Homo sapiens: one gene and its partners. The protein of the gene in region 1 purifies or fractionates together with the protein of each later gene. This does not show direct contact. Each region holds a gene or a part of one and is shown in the gene's direction. Other genes may lie near its edges.

The links.
Region 2: the proteins of CCDC74B (region 1) and RGPD5 purify together in Homo sapiens (affinity purification with mass spectrometry, with the first as the bait; 2 studies listed by BioGRID). This does not show direct contact.
Region 3: the proteins of CCDC74B (region 1) and THNSL1 purify together in Homo sapiens (affinity purification with mass spectrometry; 3 studies listed by BioGRID and IntAct, with this or other methods). This does not show direct contact.

What each region holds. Positions count from the first base shown.
Region 1 is NC_000002.12:130,138,737-130,142,432, reverse strand, and holds the end of CCDC74B (coiled-coil domain-containing protein 74B), read left to right. Parts: coding exon of another isoform or gene 1-249; coding exon 250-300; intron 301-1,053; coding exon of another isoform or gene 1,054-1,079; exon of another isoform or gene 1,080-1,095; coding exon of another isoform or gene 1,096-1,136; coding exon 1,137-1,275; intron 1,276-2,061; coding exon 2,062-2,254; intron 2,255-2,336; coding exon 2,337-2,410; intron 2,411-2,485; coding exon 2,486-2,542; intron 2,543-2,742; coding exon 2,743-2,878; 3' UTR 2,879-3,146; downstream 3,147-3,696.
Region 2 is NC_000002.12:109,789,210-109,797,391, forward strand, and holds the start of RGPD5 (RANBP2-like and GRIP domain-containing protein 5/6), read left to right. Parts: upstream 1-5,095; 5' UTR 5,096-5,256; coding exon 5,257-5,328; intron 5,329-8,182.
Region 3 is NC_000010.11:25,012,097-25,019,890, forward strand, and holds the start of THNSL1 (threonine synthase-like 1), read left to right. Parts: upstream 1-4,515; 5' UTR 4,516-4,596; exon of another isoform or gene 4,597-4,693; intron 4,694-7,794. Other genes in the region: ENKUR (enkurin), read right to left, coding at 3,764-3,840.

The sequences.
Region 1 (3,696 bases):
TCTCCCTCGGGACCTGCTGTTCCATGTGTCCCAAGCCCTCCTGCTTTCCAGATGGCCCCTCAGGAAACCACCTTTCCAGGGCCTCTGCTCCCTTGGGCGCTCGCTGGGTCTGCATCAACGGAGTGTGGGTAGAGCCGGGAGGACCCAGCCCTGCCAGGCTGAAGGAGGGCTCCTCACGGACACACAGGCCAGGAGGCAAGCATGGGCGTCTTGCGGGCGGTAGCGCCGACACTGTGCGCTCTCCTGCAGACAGCCTCTCCACGTCAAGCTTCCAGTCTGTCAAGTCCATCTCTAATTCAGGTGAGCAGGCTGGCGTCCATGTGCTCACAGGGGTGAGTGCCCCACGGGGACCCCAGCCTGGGTGGCCTCTAGGGGTGCTGACCAGGTACCCTCTGCTGGGCCAAGCTCCAGGATTTGGGGATGAAGGTGCAGCTGAAAAGAGCCCTGCAAGCTGAAGCCACCGGGAGGGGATTAAGGGGGGGTGGGCAGGACCAGGGACCAGTCACAGGGCAGTAAGGCCTCACAGCAGGCACCCCAGGGTGGGGCAGCAAGCAGGCAGGAGGGGCCTCCCCGGGTGGCCGCCTAGGGAGGACGTACCCTGGCTGCCCAGCAGCAGCCCTGCTTGGCCGTGTCCCCGCCACAAGCAGGCAGGACACAGGAGGGATGGCACTGCCCACGGAGCCCTGGGCTCATGGCACCTTCTGCAGAGTGAACTGGGAGCAGAGAGCCTCTTTTCCCCACTCTGTGAGGCCGGGCATTTTCCTCAGCCCAGCCCTAACCCTCACCATTCCTGTGATGGGCCCAGGTGCTGGACGGGCCTTGTCCTTGCCGAGGAAACCCATGCAGGCTGGGTCCCAAGCCTCTCATGCAGTTTCATTTTACCCAAGATGGGGCCAGCTTCCACTATGTTGATTGTTCTAGAGTGTTCACAGGCACCACCCATGGGCTTCACCCTCAGAACCACATTGATTCCCCCCAGAACCCTCCAAGGCAGGCTTCCCTTTACAGAGGAGGAAACTGAGGCAGGGACAGGGGCTTCTTGGGTACACACAGCTGTTCCTGGAAAACTTGGGCGGTGACTGTTGGTGCCTGCAGTGACCGGCCTTGTAGGGTCTGACTTGCAGCCAACTCTCAAGGCAAGGCCAGGCCCCAGCCCGGCTCCTTCAACAAGCAAGATTCAAAAGCTGACGTCCCCCAGAAGGCGGACCTGGAAGAGGAGCCCCTACTTCACAACAGCAAGCTGGACAAGGTTCCTGGGGTACAAGGGCAGGCCAGGTAAGGCTTGGGTGTTCCTGGGGTGCAAGGGCAGGCCAGGTAAGTCTTGCCTGCACCCTAAGGGCCCCATGACTACATTTACTAGGCTCACGCCCTGCAGTCAGCCAACTGCTCTGCCCCTAGCTCCAGGGGCCTGTCTCCAGGGCTCATGATAGCAGATGACGGCCACGCTCTACCCATCGGTGGGCGCTGTCTTCCTCCCTTCCCCTGGGGGTCCTGCAGAGTACCTGTGCTGACCTGAGCCCACGAGGGGGGCCAGTAGCGGCCCCTAAACCACTTCCTCAGAGAAAAGTAAAGTAATATTCTGACCAAGAGAAGGCTTGCTGCCCCTGGCCACAGCCTGCCTTTGGAGGGCACTAGGCCAGCAGGTCAGAGTAGGAACAGGTTCTGGTGATCCCTGAGTTTGCGGGACTGCCCTGAGATGCTACAGAGCGCACACTTTCAGCAGCGCAACCAGCAGGACAGGCTCCTGCATCTGCACATCCCGAGACCAGGCCTGGAGCAAGATGCCCCACTGGGTGTGGGGTCACGATCAAGAGCAGCCTGGCAGCTAGCTGGTCACCCACTGAAGCCCATCTGACCCTTAGGGCACCTTCAGAGGGGAGAAAGGGACAGGCCCCAGTCCCAGAGACCCCCACCTGGTGCCCAGAGCACCCTGCTCAGTGGGAGAGGGGAACCAGGCCCTCTTCCCCACATTGGCCTGGGCGCTGCCTGGGGAGGTATGCTGGGTGGGTGGTTAGACGCACCTGGGCAGGTCACCTCTGGCTGCTGCAATGACTGTTTCAGAAAGGAGAAAGCAGAGGCCTCTAACGCAGGAGCTGCCTGTATGGGGAACAGCCAGCACCAGGGCAGGCAGATGGGGGCGGCGGCACACCCCCCAATGATCCTGCCCCTTCCCCTGCGAAAGCCCACCACACTTAGGCAGTGCGAAGTGCTCATCCGCGAGCTGTGGAATACCAACCTCCTGCAGACCCAAGAGGTGAGGCCCTGGGTGGTGGGGGTGGCCCTGGGCAGTCTGGCACCGCCACAGGCCCCACCACGCCCCTGCCCCTGCCTTTCAGCTGCAGCACCTCAAGTCCCTCCTGGAAGGGAGCCAGAGGCCCCAGGCAGTCCCGGAGGAAGCTAGCTTTCCCAGGTGAGTGCCTGGTGCACCCCTGCCCCATCCCTGGGGGCCTATCCACAGCTCACTGCTGACTCTTCCTTCACCCAGGGACCAAGAAGCCACGCATTTCCCCAAGGTCTCCACCAAGAGCCTCTCCAAGAAATGGTAAGTCCCACAGGCATGGGGACAGTGGGGCAGCCCTGCAGCCTGGGCCCCAGGGAGGGAGTGGGGAAGGGAGCGTGGCAGCGCAGAAGCGGAGCTCGCTGAGGCCTCTCTGTGCCCCCGTGAGGGCCATGCAGGCCGCACTCCCCACACACTCCACTCGCGAGGATGCTCACGGTGACAGTCCCTCTACCCGCCCCCAGCCTGCTTCTGAGCCCACCTGTGGCGGAGCGTGCCATCCTGCCCGCACTGAAGCAGACCCCGAAGAACAACTTTGCCGAGAGGCAGAAGAGGCTGCAGGCAATGCAGAAACGGCGCCTGCATCGCTCGGTGCTTTGAGCTACCCGCATCTGGTCAGTGCCAGGCCCACCAACCTGCAGCTGGAGATTGGCTCTCTATAGCATTTCCTGACACTTCCGCTACTTTTAGGCCTGGCTAAATTCCAAGATAGATAACACTCAAGATAGATAAAGTACTTGATCTCCAAACTGACAAACTGTTTATTTTCTAGCTGTTATTTTGCTATTTGGCATTTACATAAAAGCACACGATGAAGCAGGTATCGCCTTACCTGTTGAAACTGAAAATAAAGCTTGTTTATTTCCAAGTTGTGTGCCTGGCTCCTCACTGGCTATCAGGCGTCGCGTCCCTTCCCAGTCCCAGCCCTTGGCCTCTAGCCCAGGCCCCGCTGTCTGCAGGGACCTGCCTGGGCAGCCCAGTCTTGCGCATCCTGGGACCTGCCAGCGGCCCTGGGAGACAGGCATTGGCAGAGCCATGCACATCCTCCCTGGAAGCGGGAGGGCTTTTCTGGTCCCCTGGCTGGGCTGGAGCTGCGTTCCAAACACATGATCACTCTGTCTCTTGCCCACACTGCACACTCCTGGGGGCAAGAGGCTGTCCTCTGCTGCCCTGACACAGCACCGCAGACAGGGGGTCCAGCCAGGCTCGCCCTCCTCCTCGGAGGGCTGTCTCGAGTGCCGTGGCCATGCCCGCACCACCCCTTCCGCCACAGCACAGCCATGTCCATGTCGGGGGTGGGGTGGCCAGCTTAGTGCCCACCCTCAGCCAGCCACACAGTCTTCCCAGGCCCACGGCCCACTTCGTTGGCATTAATCTCAGCCTCTTCCTGCTTCAGGGAGCAGAACTTTGCCAGGAAG
Region 2 (8,182 bases), about 20 Mb from region 1:
GGGAGAGGAGAACAGCATATGGTAGGCAGCCCAGGGGAAGCATGCTGGGCCCTTAACCCAGAAGGAGGGTCTCAGTGTGTCCAGTTGCTCATTTCCTTGAAAGAAAACCCAGATGTCCTCTGAGGTGAACCTAGTGATAGTTTTCCCTTGTAGTTTTAAATGTGCTCATTCAAATTAGAATGCTTAGCCATCCGTCCCATATTCCGGCATTTTTCCTTTAATCTATGTTTGCAGGGTTGTGAGTTGTGCTGAATAGTATGAAATGTGTTATTAGTGGACGCACCACTGTTGACCTCAGAGCATGTGACTAGACAGTGCAGGAGGAGATGTTGTCATGTTACTTTGGATATAAAACGTCCCTAGGTGACCTTGTGGGCCTGATCCACGGTGAAAGGTGGGGAGAGGGTACTGGAGCAGGGCAGAGGGACTGGATGAGCCTGCATGGGGAGGAAGGCGTGACTGAGGGAAGACAGCTCAGCCCCCCAGGGGAAACCTGAGTTCAGTGTTGGGGAATGTGAGGACACAATGGCGGGGCAGGATGGCCCTGGCACCAGCGGTGCTGGGGACCGTAGGGGGCCATGCTTTGTGAGAGGCAAACTTGGCTCCAAGGATGTGAGGCTGGGAGCATGGAGGTGAAAAGGCCGAGAGACAGAGGGGAGCTGAGGCAGGCAGGGCAGAGACGGGGGGCCCAGCAGGGCCTGGGGCAAGAAATTAAGGATGGGGCAGGGTACCTCCAGCAACTTAGTCACACTGAGGGGATGGGAGGGGTAGCAAGGGACTGGGTGGGGACAAAGTGACAAGATGGGGAGTAGGGAAGTGGGCACTAGTTTGTGTGTTAATAGGTCAGCAAGTCTTTTAGAGTCCTGGGAAGTAAAATAAAAATTAAAACAACAAAAACAAGCCGGACAGGGCAGCACATTCCTGTAGTCTCAGCCACTAGGTAGGCTGAGGTGGGAGGATCACTTGAGCCCAGGAGGTTGTGTCTGAGCCTCCCAGCTACTCGGGAGGCTGAGGCAGGAGAATCGCTTGAACTCAGGAGGCGGAGGTTGCAGTGAGTCAAGATTGTGCCATTGCACCCCAGCCTAGGCAATAAGGTGAGACTCCATCTCAAAAAAAGATAATAATAATAAGGGGAAAACTCAGAGATGGAATTACATGCACCAGGTGTAGTGTGAGCAAAGGATTAACTTCCTGATACATTCTTGTTTCCCATATATATAGCTATCAAGGTCATCTTTTAGTAATGAGTTAAGTTCTTTCTTTTCCAACTCAAAATTTGTCTGCATCTTTACCCAAATATCCAGATCTGATACTCTAGGCTTGGGCTAATATAGTGGGGTGGAGGAGGCTTGGGTTAAGGTTTAAAGTTCCAAGGGCTGAACCGGAATAAATGGTGTATTTATCAAGGGAAGAGCAAGGCAAAACCAGCAAGTCCAAACCATGGAGGCCTCAACCGAGGTGAGGGGAAAAGTTAGGGAGCCTTAGGAAAGCTCTGAGGAGGGACCCCAATTAGGGGGACCGTAGTTAGGGTATGAGGTTTGTGAGATCAGGACTGGAATTGCTGCAAGAGACCCTATGATTGGGTGGCAGCAGCATGTTGTGGAGATGAGCCTGCTTCCTCAGCCTCTTCCTCTTGTCAGAACCCTTTGCCTCTCCCTACACACGCACACACACATGCATGCACCATGCTACAGAAACCTTTCTCAGTCTTGCCATTCTCTCAAATTATGCGTTGGTCTTCCCTTCATCTTCAGATTCTTTAAAGAGTAATCAAAGTTCCCACTTCTAGCATGATGAAGTGAGGAGGTCAACAAATCTTTCCAAAATGTAACTGTATAGCTGGACAAACCATTTAGCATTCTGCAATTTTACCAAAGGCACGGCACAAATGGGGATGTGTTTAAGAATGAAAGCTGGCCAGGCGCGGTGGCTCACGCCTGTAACCCCAGCACTTTGGGAGGCTGAAGCAGAAGGACCACTTGAGCTCAGGAGTTCAAAAACAGCCTGGGCAACTTGGTGAGACCCCCGTCTGTACAAAAAAAAAATCAAAAAAGGCATGGTGGTGCACACTTGTGGTCCCAGCTACATGGGAGGCTAAGGCGGGAGAATCATTTGAGCCCAGGAGATTGAGGCTGCAGTGAGCTGTGATCACACCACTGCACTCCAACCTGGGCAACAGAGTGAGACAGACCCTGTCCCTAAAGAAAAAAAAGAAGAATTAAAGTGAGCCTTGGATAAGACCAGCCTGTGTCCGTGGCATCTTTGCCCAGGCTGCTACCCCCATTTACCCCAGCTGTTGATAACACACACAGCGGCCCCCAGCAGGGCAGCCTGTGGAGATAAGCTCCCCTGCCACCTCGCTGCAGGGGCTGGAGGCAAGAGTGAGGAAGGTTTTGATTTGCAGCATGGCTAGTTAAGGTGGTGATATCAGTGACCAGGAGGAAGAAAGGCCACTGACTCCTAGCCTGAGGCTCTGGGCCTTTGGAGACGAGCAAACGACCTGCAGATTAGTCATGGATGTAAGAGGGAGCTCCGGGAGGTCGGAGAGCCAGAGGGAGCTTAGTAAACTCTTCACACTACCCAAATGGACTGAAGGCTCATAGCTGGCAGAGATTAGAGCAAGCCCAAGCCATGTCCATATGCCCAGGGCACACAGCCTGTGTGTGTGCCGGTGCCAGTGTTAGGAAGTAAAAGCCGGAACACCCTTGCAAATGGCCCGGGGCGTGCCTCCTCCCCATTGCACATAGATCCAGCAGCAGATGGTGGAAACCATATTGGCTTTAACTGATGTTTGACTGACGAACTATGCAAACAAGAAGCGACCTCTAGGGAGTCAGTCTGAAAAATTAAAGCAAACAAATGCCAACAATAAAACTTAGCAATGACCTGAGTGAGTGCACACTGTGGAGGAGACAGGCTTCCTGCATGGAGTCCAGCCAGGAGACAGTACAGAATGCATGGAGCAGCTATTGGAAGACATTGAAAACTAAATAGTTGCAGGCAGCTTTCCCAAGAAGACCAGAACTTGAAGTACCACCAAACCGGTGGTGAGATAACCATGTTTCCCCTATGGCATCCCGTGACTAACCTGGCAGTGGGCACCAGGGTGCAGATAGAAAGAGCTCCAGAAGATGCCCTCTATTTCTGGCTCAAGTAACGGGAAAAGGGTCTCCTAACATTCCGAGGGAATCCAGAAGTTCGTTCCTCCCCATTTTTCTTTTCCCTGTTCTCTCATACCTCAGCCCACAAGCAGTCCCACAGTGGCACTGGCACCAGCCCCAAGAGGAGCCCAGGAGCCAAGACGCAGGAGGGAACCTTCTCCAACTGACAGAGCTGTGGTCCCAAGAGGGCAGAAACAATCCATGTTGCTTCTCTTCCAATTCAGTCCTCCCACTGCTTGGCTTCAGATGTAGAAATGCATGGTAGAGCCAGATACCGAAAGCCTGTTTTCTGCTTGGAAGACTAAAAAGAGAAGCCTCAGCAAATGAAAGCAACAGGGTAATTGCTGAGAGAGAGTTAATCAGTGAAGCAACCCCATTAACCTGTCTATAAACCCCAGGGCTCATTCTTGAGCTGCTCCTGCATAGATCTCGTCCTGTTCAACACACCAAAGATTGACAGCTGAACTGAGAGACCATCACCCACAGACACAACTGGCCACTGGGTGGTGCACAAGTCAGACAGAACTGAATAGTCCTGTGAAGACTCTGGACACTGAACTGACTTTGGAACCAGACTGCAGAATGGAGGGGTGGGAACTTGTGGCTTGAACCTAATCAGGTAGATTGCCTGGCCAAAATGAAAATACCTATCATCTCCATAGGATTTAATTTCATTCAATGATTTTTTTTTTTTTAGTAAATTTGCAATGTTTTACAGCCTTCCCCAAAATCTAATTCCAAAATATCTCTATCACCCCAACGAGAGACTCCATTCACGTTGGCAGTCACATGCACTCCCAGATTTCCCCTCCACCCAGCCCTTGGCAATCACTAGTCTACTTTCTGTGTCTTTGAGTTTGCCTACTCTGGATATTTCATATAAATGAAATGATATATGAGGTTTTGTGATTGGCACCTTTAATTTAGAATAATGTTTTCAAGGCTGATTCATGTTGTAGTATGCATTGGTACTTCATTATTTTTTATGCAAAAGTAATATTCTATTGTATGGCTATACCACATTTTTCTTTGAGACAGAGATCTCACTATGTCGCCCAGGCTGGAGTTTAGTGGCTCTTCACAGGCCTGATCACAGCTCCTGCATGGATCAAGGAGCATCACTGCAGCTGCAAACTGCAGCTTCAAACTCTCCGGCTCAAGCGACCCTCCTGCCTCAACCTCCCCAGTAGCTGGGCCTACAGGCACGTGTGTCTGTGCCCAATAATACCACATTTTAAAAATCCATCTTCAGTAGATGGAAATTTGGATTGTTTCCACCTTTTACTAATAAAAATAGTACTGCTATAAACATTCATGTATAGGTTTTCTTTTGTTTTTGTTTTTTCTTTTTTGTAGAGATGGGGGTCTCGCTGTGTTGCCCAGGCTGGTCTCAAATTCCTGGACTCAAGTGATCCTCCCATCAAAAACTCCCAAAGTGCTGGGATTACAGGCGTGAGCCACTATGCCTGGCCTGTATACAAGTTTTTGTGTAGACATGTTTACATCCAATTAATGAACACAGGATGTCTTTCCATTGATTTAGCTCCTCTTTAATTTCCTTCAACAGTGTTCTGTAGTTTCCAGTCTACAAGTCTTACACTTTTGGGTTAAATTTATTCATAATTATTTTATTATTTTTGATAATATTATAAATGGAATTGTTTACTTAATTTTACTTGAATTGTTCCTTGCTGGTGTATAAGTAGACATCTCATTTTTTTAGTTGACCTCGTATGGTACAATCTCTTTGAACTCATTTATTATCACTGATAGTTTAGGTCTTTTTTTTTCGAGGTTTCATTAAGGTTTTCTATAGATAAGATCATGTCAAGACACCCTCAGACCACAGGGCGGCGCCACGAGCCCGGCCGAGTGCAGCTGGAGCGCCGACGTCGCCGAGGATACACAGTGCTGAGGCAGAACGCAGGTTCGTCACAGTGGGCCTCCGTGGGCGGCGCCGCACGCTCGTCACAGTGGGCCTCCGCCGGCTACGCCGCTGCTTCAGTGGCTTGCAGGCACTTTCCTCTTGGAAGTGGCGACTGCTGCGGGGCTGAGCGGTGCTCGCACGCGTCTCGGGAGCCAGGTTGGCGGCGCGATGAGGCGCAGCAAGGCCGATGTGGAGCGGTACGTCGCCTCGGTGCTGGGTCTCACCCCGTCGCCTCGACAGGTGAGTGGGTCTCGAAGAGAGCGACGGCGGCCTCGACCCGGCCGGGGGGCGGCGGCGGCGGCGGCGGCGGCGGGGGGGGCGGCGGCGGCGGCCGCCTCGATGGCTCAGGCGTCATGTCTCCCGAGGGGCGCTGCTCCGTGGCGCGCTCTGTTGAGGCGCCGGCCGGCTGGCGCAGTCCTGTGGGCGGCGTGGCGCTTGCAAGCGCAGGAAGAGTCCTGGGGGGACCGCGGCGGGCGGGAGACCGTTGGCGCCGGCGCTTCCTCTTAATCCCGGCTTGTTCCCGACGCTTGTTCCCGACGGTGCTCGCTCCTGGGCCCGTCCTGGCCCGGGCTTTCTGGCCGATCGCGCACCCCGTAGTACCCGCGCGGCCTAGTTCTCGGGGGCTTGGGCACCCGGGTGCTGTATCGGCGGGTTTCTTCCCATCTCCTGGACATTTACTTTATATGCTGCGGCGGAGGTCGTACCTCCTTGGCCTGGAGGAACCCAGTGGGGACTGACGCAGCTCCGGGTGAGCTTTGGCGGCTGCGTCGAGTGACAAGGTAGGCATCTCAGCGCGGACATTTGCAATGGCCCGACGGCGCAAATGACACGGAAAGTCCCCTTGTTTTGAGTATGAGGTGTTTGTCGCTGTCCCTTTGTAAGGGTCCAGCTCCACTCCACTCCTCATACTCACCTCCCTCGCCCCCCTCCCCGCCCGGAACACTTTGGTAGCTGCCTTTGCTTAAAAAAAAAAAATTCTAAAGTTCTTACAAATCGTTAGTATGGCTTGCAATTTTTAACCTTTTCCACAGATGTTTTAAGGGTATTTTTCCTCTTTACATGTAAATAATGCTGAGATTACAGGTGTGAGCCACTCTGCTCAGCCTGATTTTTTTTTTTTTAAACAAGCTTAAAAAAAAAAAAAGCAAGTTTGGAGCCTTTCTGAGATTCTTAGTGGGGACCTTGGCTTCCAAAAGATTAAAAACCACTGGTCTAGACAGAAGTTAGAATGTTCTTTCAACTACATAACTTCTCCATTAAATAAAGTGGAGTGGTGGCAGAATTTTGACGATTGGTTATTATGACACCTCTCTTACATTTAGAGTCTTTTTTTTCCCCCAAATTTAAAGTCATTTACATTAGAACCTGGGGATTTCAGCGGAATATGGATTAACTAGTGAGTAACTGGAACATGTGAAGCTATTCTGTGAAGTTAGGTTTGAGTGAAATGACAAAACAGGGTGCTTTGGATAGAAGGTAAAGAATGGAGGGAGAAGAGGCAGTGGCTGTGAAGAATATGAAGAGGTTAGTATTCTCCCCCAGTTTGGCAGAGGCTGGCCATCTGTGAACTGCCCATGCTTTCTAGAATGTCGGAGTTTTGGAGTGTGATGATGCGTCTGTATATCATATCTTTCTAGTCTTCCATTGCGCTTTCATTTGTTAGTCTCCTCTTGTTTTGCCATTTTTCTACTCCCTCACATGTGCTTTTGCCCTTCTTAAAAATATTCTTCGTCTGTAATCCGAGCATTTTGGGAGGCCGAGAGACCAGCCTGACCAATATGGTGAAAATCCGTCTCTATTAAAAATACAAAAATGAGCCGGGCGTGGTGGCAGCGCCTGTAGTCCCACCTACTCGGTAGGCTGAGACAGGAGAATTGCTTGAACCCTGGAGGCAGAGGTTGTGGTGAGCAGAGATTGCGCCACTGCACTCCAGCCTGTGTGACAGAGCGAGACTCTGTCTCCAAAAAAGAAAAAAAGAAAAAAAATATAATTCTTTCTCTAGTTTTTCTTTTTCCAGATGGCTTCTGTTTAGTTTTTCTATGTTCTGTCAAGTCGGTTTCTTATTCTGCAGCTGATTCCTACTTCTCAAAGTCTACTTGACAGCTCTTATTTTTATTTGTATTTTTTTTAGAATAGGGTCTTGCTGTGTTGCCCATCAAATTTTTGGGCATAAATGATCCTCCTACCTCTGTCTGCTGAGTACTTAGGACTACAGGCAGGCACCTTTGACAGCTGTTAGTTGTTTTTTCTGCCCTTTACATCTATACTTCATACTTCTGAGTAACACACATATATACTTTTGTTATTTTTAATTCCCTTTCTCCCATTTTAGACATTTTCTTTTCTTTTCTTTTCTTTTTTTTTTTGAGACGGAGTCTCGCTCTATCGTCCAGGCTGGAGTGCAGTGTCGCGATCTCGGCTCACTGCAAACTCTGCCTCCGGGGTTCACGCCATTCTCCTGCCCCAGCCTGTAGCTGGGACTACAGGCACCCGCCACAACACTCGGCTAATTTTTTAGCATTTTTAGTAGAGACGGGGTTTCACCGTGTTAGCCAGGATAGTCTCGATCTCCTGACCTCATGATCCGCCCGCCTCAGCCTCCCAAAGTGCTGGGATTACAGGCGTGAGCCACCGCGCCCGGCCCCATTTTAGACATTCTGTACTGGCTATTATGCTCCTCCAAAACTGTCCTCAGACACTTTGGTTTGCCCCTCATTCTTTCAGTACTGTTACTGCAGTTTTTGTTTAAATGAATAGTTAACATTTATATAAATAGAAGGTAAATATTTTTGCATTTGAATTGCCCTTGTTGTGCAGTTTTTTGTTGTTTTTTTTTTATTATACTTTAAGTTTTAGGGTACATGTGCACATTGTGCAGGTTAGTTACATATGTATACATGTGCCATGCTGGTGTGCTGCACCCACGTTTTCCTGGACTGAATAATTGCTTTATTTTTTGGTTTGCTTGTATGTTGTGTTACTACTTGCTTACTTAAACTCAGCAATTTAAACCCTCAAATGTGGTCAAACTGGTCAGATAATCCCATCAATTTCAGCTTAAAACACTGATTGATTGATTGATTGTCTGTCTACC
Region 3 (7,794 bases), on another chromosome or scaffold:
CAAGCCTTGGTGGCTTCCACATGGTGTTGGGACTACGGGTGCACAGAAGTCAAGAATTGAGGTTTGGGAACCTCCACCTAGATTTCAAAGGTTGTATCAAAATGTCTGGATGTCTAGGCAAAGATGTGCTTCGGGGCAGAGCCCTCATGGAGAACCTCTGCTAGGGCAGTGTGGAAGGGAAATATGGGGTGGGAGCCCCCCACACAGAATTCCCACTGGGGCACTGCCTAGTGGAGCTGTGAGAAGAGGGCCACTGTTCTCCAGACCTCAGAATGGTAAATCCACTGAGAGCATGCACCATGCACCCAGAAAAGCTGCAGACACTCAATGCCCACCCATGAAAGCAGCCGGAATGGGGGCTGTACTGTGCCAGGTCACAGGGACAGAGCTGCCCAAGACCATAGGATCCCACCTCTTGCATCAGCGTGACCTGGATGTGAGACATGGAGTCAAAGGAGATCATTTTGGAACTTTAAGGTTTAATGACTGCCCTATTAGAATCTGGACTTGCAAGGGGCCTATAGCCCCTTTGTTTTGGCCAATTTCTGCTATTTCGAATGGTTATATTTACCCAATGCCTGGACCCCCATTGTATCTGGGAAGTACCTAACTTGCTTTTGATTTTATATGCTTGTAGGCAGAAGGGACTTGCCTGGTCTCAAATGAGACTTTGAACTGTGGACTTCTGAGTTAATGCTGAAATGAGTTAAGACTTTGGGGGACTGTTGGGAAGGTATGATTGGTTTTGAAATGTGAGGACATGAGATCTGGGAGGGGCTGGGGTAGAATGATATGGTTTGGCTGCATCCCCACGCAAATCTCACATTAAATTGATGAGATCCCATAATTCCCATATGTCATGGGAGGGATCTGGTGATAGGTAATTGAATCATGGGAGTGGGTCTTTCCTGTGCTGCTCTCATGATAGTGAATAAGTCTCATGAGATCTGATGGTTTTATAAAGGGGAGTTCCCCTGCACACACTCTCTTTCCTGCCACCATGTAAGATGTGACTTTGCTCCGCCTTTGCCTTCTGCCATGATTGTAAGGCTTCCTCAGCCATGTGAAACTGTGAGTCAATTAAACTTCTTTTGAAATATAAATTACCCAGTCTCGAGTATGTCTTTATTAGCAGCGTGAGAACAGACTAATATACTATGTTCTATGATAGATAAGAGATATAAAAGACATATTTATTAAATTTGCAAATGACACAAAAAGAATGGTTAACAGAATGTATAAAAGATTCAAATGCAAAACTATCTCCATAGATTAATGAGTTGAGATAAAAAAGAATCAGCTACATAATTAGAGGATGGGAGAGACCAACCTTAGTCAAAATCCATACAGGGTATTTTAGTGTGAGCCAATAGTTGGACATGACTGTCAAAATGCTTATGGAAGCTTAGGCTGAATGGATGAAAATATTGTGCCAAGAATTATGGAAAGGAGATAATGGTTTCATGGACTGTTCAGACCATAACTGGAATATTGCTTTAAACAAAATGGAAAGAGGGGATGACTGGAGATATTCAATAACTGCAGACATCAATAAAGGGTGATAGGCCAGGCGTGGTGGCTCACGCCTATAATCATAGCACTTTGGGAGGCAGAGGTGGGTGGATTACTGGAGGTCAGGAGGTCAAGACCAGCCTGGCCACCATGGTGAAACCCCATCCCTACTAAAAATACAAAATTAGCCAGGCATGGTAGCAGGGACCTGTAATCCCAGCTACTCGGGAGGCTGAGGCAGGAGAATCGCTTGAACCCAGGAGGCAGAAGCTGCAGTGAGCCAAGATGGCGCCATTGCACTCCAGCCTGGGCAAAAAGAGTGAAACTCCGTCTTGAAAAAAAAGTAATTAAAAAAAAAAGGGTGACAGATTTGGTGAAAATCTTGGAAACCATCTTATGCATCATGAGTAACTCAAATTTTGAAAACTGAATCATGACTTCCCATTGACTCTGAGGCTTTCATAACTTAAGTCTCAGCCAATAGTTCAACTGCAGAAAAGTGCCTTTCATCCGATTTTGGTCACATACATTCATCTTCTAAGTTCTCATTTAGTATCTTCATCTCTCATTATGGTTTTCAATGATAAATTTTAGTGTTCATATTTCAGTTCCCCAAAAAGACGGTAAACTCTGAGGCGTGGGAGATCAAAAGCCAGGCAGTTGTCAGAATCTTGCCAGTGTAAATTGACTTTAACCTAACAGAAATGATTCTTTTGGCATCACATTTGGGTGCCTCTATTTCCTCTAATCATAAATCTTTCTTCTACTCATTTCTTCATAGTAAAACCAAGAAGTCTGTGCTATCACTCCAACAGCACCAAGAACAGATATACTAGTGCAATATTATACACATAATAGGGGCTCCATTAATGCTTGCCAAATGAATAAAGACTGTTCCTATAAATTTTTTTTGAAAAAAAAAATCGTCTAGATGCAGTAAAGCTTTTTAATTTGCCAAAGAACAGAATACCTACCTAATAAAATAACTCTCAAATTCAATATTCTATAGAAATACAATCTACCAATCTGTTATAGAGGAGTTTTATCTCATGTAATATGCAGGAATTTGAAACCAAAAGTTGGTGCAACAATAGAAAATTTGAAAATAAATTCTGCAACTGTGCCATAACTTACTTTACATTCCTCTTTCCAGTCTCTAGATGTTGATATGCTAATGGAGATGTAATACAGTTACTGCTCTAATTTAAACCAGATACTTAAAATTGAAGAAGCTGCCTACTTGTTGAAGCTATTACCCTAATACTAGTAAAAATAATTGACCATTAGATCTAAAAGGGGCCTTGGATATTATCTGGTACATTTATCTCACAGATCAGTAAACAAATGAAACTTTATTCTAAAGTTCACAAAGACAATTAATTGCTAGGCCCGATTTTTAGTCCAGTCCTTTTCAAATGTGGTTTTGACTTGCATACGGACAAGGATGATGGTAAAAGACAGGAAACATTTCAAGTCCTAGGAGAAATGAGATTTTCTCCACTACTTTCTTTGCTCCCCACAGATTTAAGTAAGTTCTAAGAAGTCCCTACAGATGGGAGTAACTGAAGTGCTTCCTTTGCACGTTTTTGAGATTTGGAGAATTTAAGAGGTTCTAAGACCTATGTAAAATTTCAACTCAATTACATATTTTTTGGTTCATTATCTATCCACCAATTCTTCCTTCCATTTAAACCATTAGATCTGAAAAAGTCCTTAGAAACTGCCTAATAGTGGTAGATATTTCGTTTCACTGATCAAAAACCTGAGGCTCAAAAGCAAATGTAAATTTATATTTCATAAAAATCTTGGGGGAAAAGTCCTATCCTATCCCATTAGAGAGGGAGTAGTGCAGTTAGAAATACAACACCGAACTCCTGAAACCAAACATCAAGTATCCTTAAACAAGATAATAGAATTGTGATTTTTTTCTTTTCAACATGAAACTTCATACTATGCTGTATATCACATATAATTAAATTACACAATAATCACATACCGTATTAATAAGAGGTTAAGTGTAATATAATAAAATGGTCATCTCACAGCGCCAGACTGCCCTCTCTGTAAAACTGTGAGATGCTGAATACCTAGATATTTCGACCTTTTCTCTAACAAGTTATCCTCCAAGGCTACTTCATCGAGGCAAAAATACATTTTATTTATTATTAAAAATTCCAGTATATGTATGCTTAATTAATACTGAGTATTCCCCATTCTTGTTTCAAGTGATAGTCTTTGCTTATCCACATACCTAGGAGGCTGGGGAGGCTCCTTCAAGTCACTGGGTATGAGGTTATAAATGCACTCAGAAGAGCACGTTGGATCCATGGCCACCAAATGACTCCTTAAAAGCTACTCTCCACAACTTTTTTCTCCCTGTCCCAGTATCTCCGTCCCTTTCTTCACTGCTTCCCCTTTCTTTCTTCTTCGCCTTCTGAAGGACCACAGGTTCTCTCCTTCACATCGTCCCCCTTTAACCCCCTCTTAGCAGTCCTCTCTCGGGAAGAAAACACCCTATTTCTCTCCGGATTGCTAAGCGTCGTTGACTGTGCGGTTGCCGTGGAAACCGTTACTAGGCAACGAGGAAGTGGCAGGCAGCACCGCAAACTAGGTCTCCCCTCTTCCCTCTTTCTGCAGCGCCTTCTGCTAGAGAAGCTCATTTGGAAGCCACTGTTTTTACGTGCCTTTGAAAGTTAACGGGGTGAAAATGATGTCCCCTTAAAAACTGTGCTCTTTTCTATTTCTGTGTATCTGGGGAAAAAAGAAAAATCCTAGTAGAGACGGCAAAGCGCAGCTGGTGCGCAGGCGTCACCCAATAAGGTTTTTGTGAGCAGGCCCCAATCGCGGTGTGGGCGGAGCGAGCGGCTGAGACCACGAGGACGCAAGGCCAGCGCCGCCAGGGAGACGAGGGAGGGGAGGAGCCTGAGGAGATCGGAGTGCTCGGATAGGCTACAGTGAGAAAGGAGAGTCACGTGCCCTGCGCGAGGCCGCTCGGGGAAGGGCGTGGAGCGGAGGCACGCTGGCCGCCGCAGGCACAGGCGCAGAGTCCACTGCGCGGGGGCGGGACCGGGGAGCTAGCTGCAGGTACGGTGCTCCGTCTCCTGTGGAGGCTTTAGCGGCTCGTGGACACTGCTCCCCCATTTCCTTTCATTTCCCCCGTCTTCTCAGTGAGATTTCCTTGGTGAGTTATTGGAGGAGAAAGGAAGGAAAACTAGAAGCCAGCCCGCTCCCATCGCATGCCTTTCCCCGTACCGTCCCTTCCCCTTTCCGCTACTCGCTGGTCATCTCAACTCTGCGCGCATTTTTCCTGCTGCTTCTGGTCGAGGCTCCTCGGAACGCCGCGCAGCCCTGCCCGCCACGTGTGTGAGTGCGCGCACGGGGCCCGCGGCCTCCTCCGCCTGCTGCGCTCGCCCTCCCGCCCCTGCTCCCGGGACCGCCCCTTGGGCGGTCCTCCGGGTCGGCTCTGCGCCTGCTCTTCCCCGGGTCGGGACTCTTCCTCTAGGTCGTTCTCCAGGAACCAGTGGACCTGCTCTTTGTAAATGAGCAGCCTAAACTAAGAGGAGAAGCCTTTTAAGTGGGCCTTTACGTTTTTGTCCAGTTTTTGGTGTCCCTTGTTGGAAAATTGTCTTCTGAGAAGCGGTTTTATTCCTTTTTGTTCCACCTGGTCACCCGTAAATCTATGCACATGGGCCTGCCGTAGGAAAGTCATTTAGACGCTTTTACCCGAGTGTTTAAAAGACATTTTGGTAATAGGATTTGGGGAGGAAGATGGATGCCTCTGAACCACCGGTACAGAGGCCACTCTGCCCGAAGGAAATAAAGCTTCCCGGAGAGGAGAGAAAACACACTTGAGTCTGGGTTTCTCACTGCCTGGTTGGCTGGCGGAGTGATTAAAACAACACAATGGCCTGGTGAACCTTTTAGTTCCTGTATAAAAAGGCTTTACTGAATGTGTAGGTCCTTACTTTGGGCTCTTACTGAATTTCACTACATAAGAATACGTTAAGTTTTTCTTTTTTTTTTTTTTGTATACAGTTGATTTTAATTTTTGTCCCAGACGCTTAGGGAAAATTCTCCAGATTTCTTCACATCAGATTGTCTTCCAAAACATTTTAGATAGATGGATCTGTAGATCTATATTTAGATCTAGATCCAAATCTATATCACTTTGCCCCTTTCTTTTCGCCCTTGAGTATTTTATGTTTGGGATTTCTGTTTAGCAAGTATAGAGAAAAAATTTGGCGGGAAACCTCCTGTATGTACGAAGATTCGAACCAAGGACTCATGGAATGATAACGCCATTAGCCAAGTGGATAGTCACTGGCTAAAGCTTATGAATTTTCTAATTAGAAGGAACACCTTGAGACTATTTGTGTTAATCAGTTCCTGAAATAGCAAGTAAGGGCAAAACATGATTTCTGCAGTTAGCACCAACTGGCCTTTGGTAGCCTTGATGTTCTGGGGTTACTGAAATAAAATAATTTCACTGATGTCTGTATATTTATTATGCTTTAAAAAATGCTAAACAATTTGTGCAAGACCTCACTGTGGTATAGTTAGTTTACAGCCATGAGCAGGTTGTTAAATCATTTGGAAAAAAACTTTTCTTTTTTCTTAGACATTTGATCTGCAATTCTCCTTGCCTTTTGAAAGTGTGTTTAAGCAAAATTATTTCTAGTTTTTATAATGCTCTTGAAATGACACTTCAAAAAAATGCCTGTGTCCACCGCATGTCCACAGGGAATTAACTGGTATATACCTACAGGGATGAACAAACTGTCTATAAAGGGGTAGACAGTAAATATTTCAGGCCTTTTTAGGCCAAGTGGTTATGTTGCAACTACTCAGTTTTGCCATTGTAGCTCAAAAGCAGCCAAAGACGGTACTGAACAAATATGTGAGCACATGAATGACTGAAGTTGTGCTTCAAAGAAACTTGATTTATGAAAATGATGGTGGGCCAGATTTAGCCTGTGGATTGTAGTTTGCACAGATCCTAGATCCCCGTATATAATGGTATGCCTGTGATGTACATAAACAAATGAGAGTTGTTTTTTTTTTTTTTTTTTTTGCGAAGGATTATTTTAATCTATTTAAATGAATAAAATGGGTGTAGATGAGTATATAAGACAATTGGAAGGTAAATAAACCCTTTATAAAGACAGGTTCTTTATAATTCTCAAAGTTATAGAATTGTGGATACTAAAGTTTTCAATTAAATATTCGAGATCGTTAAGAATATGTCTAACAGCAGAAGTCTAACGGCAGAAAAAGCTTAGTCAGCTTTGATAGTAATATAAAGACTAAGTGATGAACTTGCAAAATTGTTTTAGTTGTGAGATCCTTGTGATTACAGAACTATACTGGATTGTGTGGTCCTTCCACCCTCACCTCTGTTTCATGGCAAGTGGGAGGCCCTCTGAATGAAAAGTTTGAGAGAATTTTTGGTCAGAAGTCAGAAGCAGTAGAGCTTAACCTCCTTTTGGCTAGTTTGTGTCCTGATACACAGTTAGTTCTCCATATCTGTGAATTTCCCATTCTCAGATTCAACTAATTACAGATTGAAAATATTTTAAAATTTTAGTTGGGCACAGTGGCTCATACCTGCAATCCAAGCACTTTTTGAAGGCCAAGGCAGGAAGACTGCTTGAGCCCAGGAGTTGGAGACCAGCCTGGGCAACATGGCGAAACCCCCTCTCTACTAAAAATACTAAAATTAGCTGGGTGTGGTGGTGCGTGCCTTTAGTCCCAGCTACTTGGGAGGCTGAGGTGGGAGGATTGCTTGAGCCTAGGAAGTCAAGGCTGTAGTGAGCCAAGATTGTGCCACTGCACTCCTGCCTGGGCAACAGAGTGGGAGCCTGTCTGAAAAACAAACAAAAACACGAAAATAATGGAACAGTAAAAATACCACAAACAAAAAAGCAAATTAGTACAACAGCTCTGTACCTAGCATTTGCATTGTATTATGTATTATAAGTTATTCAGAGATTAAGGTATACAGGAGGATGTGCACAGGTTATATGCAAATACTACACCATTTTATATAAAGGACTTGCACATCTGCAGATTTTTCTCACTCTAAAGTCAGTCCTATTAACTGCTAATTATCCAATATCCCTCTCAATGCTTAATCCAAATAATTGTTAAACACATGAAAGAGAAGAGTGTCAAGACCAAAAGCCTTGGAGTGCACTACCAGAAATTTCCCTCTATTCAACAGAACCATTTTTATGATCATTCAACAATATCCTCAAATCTTTTTTTTCCATTTCTCCGTGAATT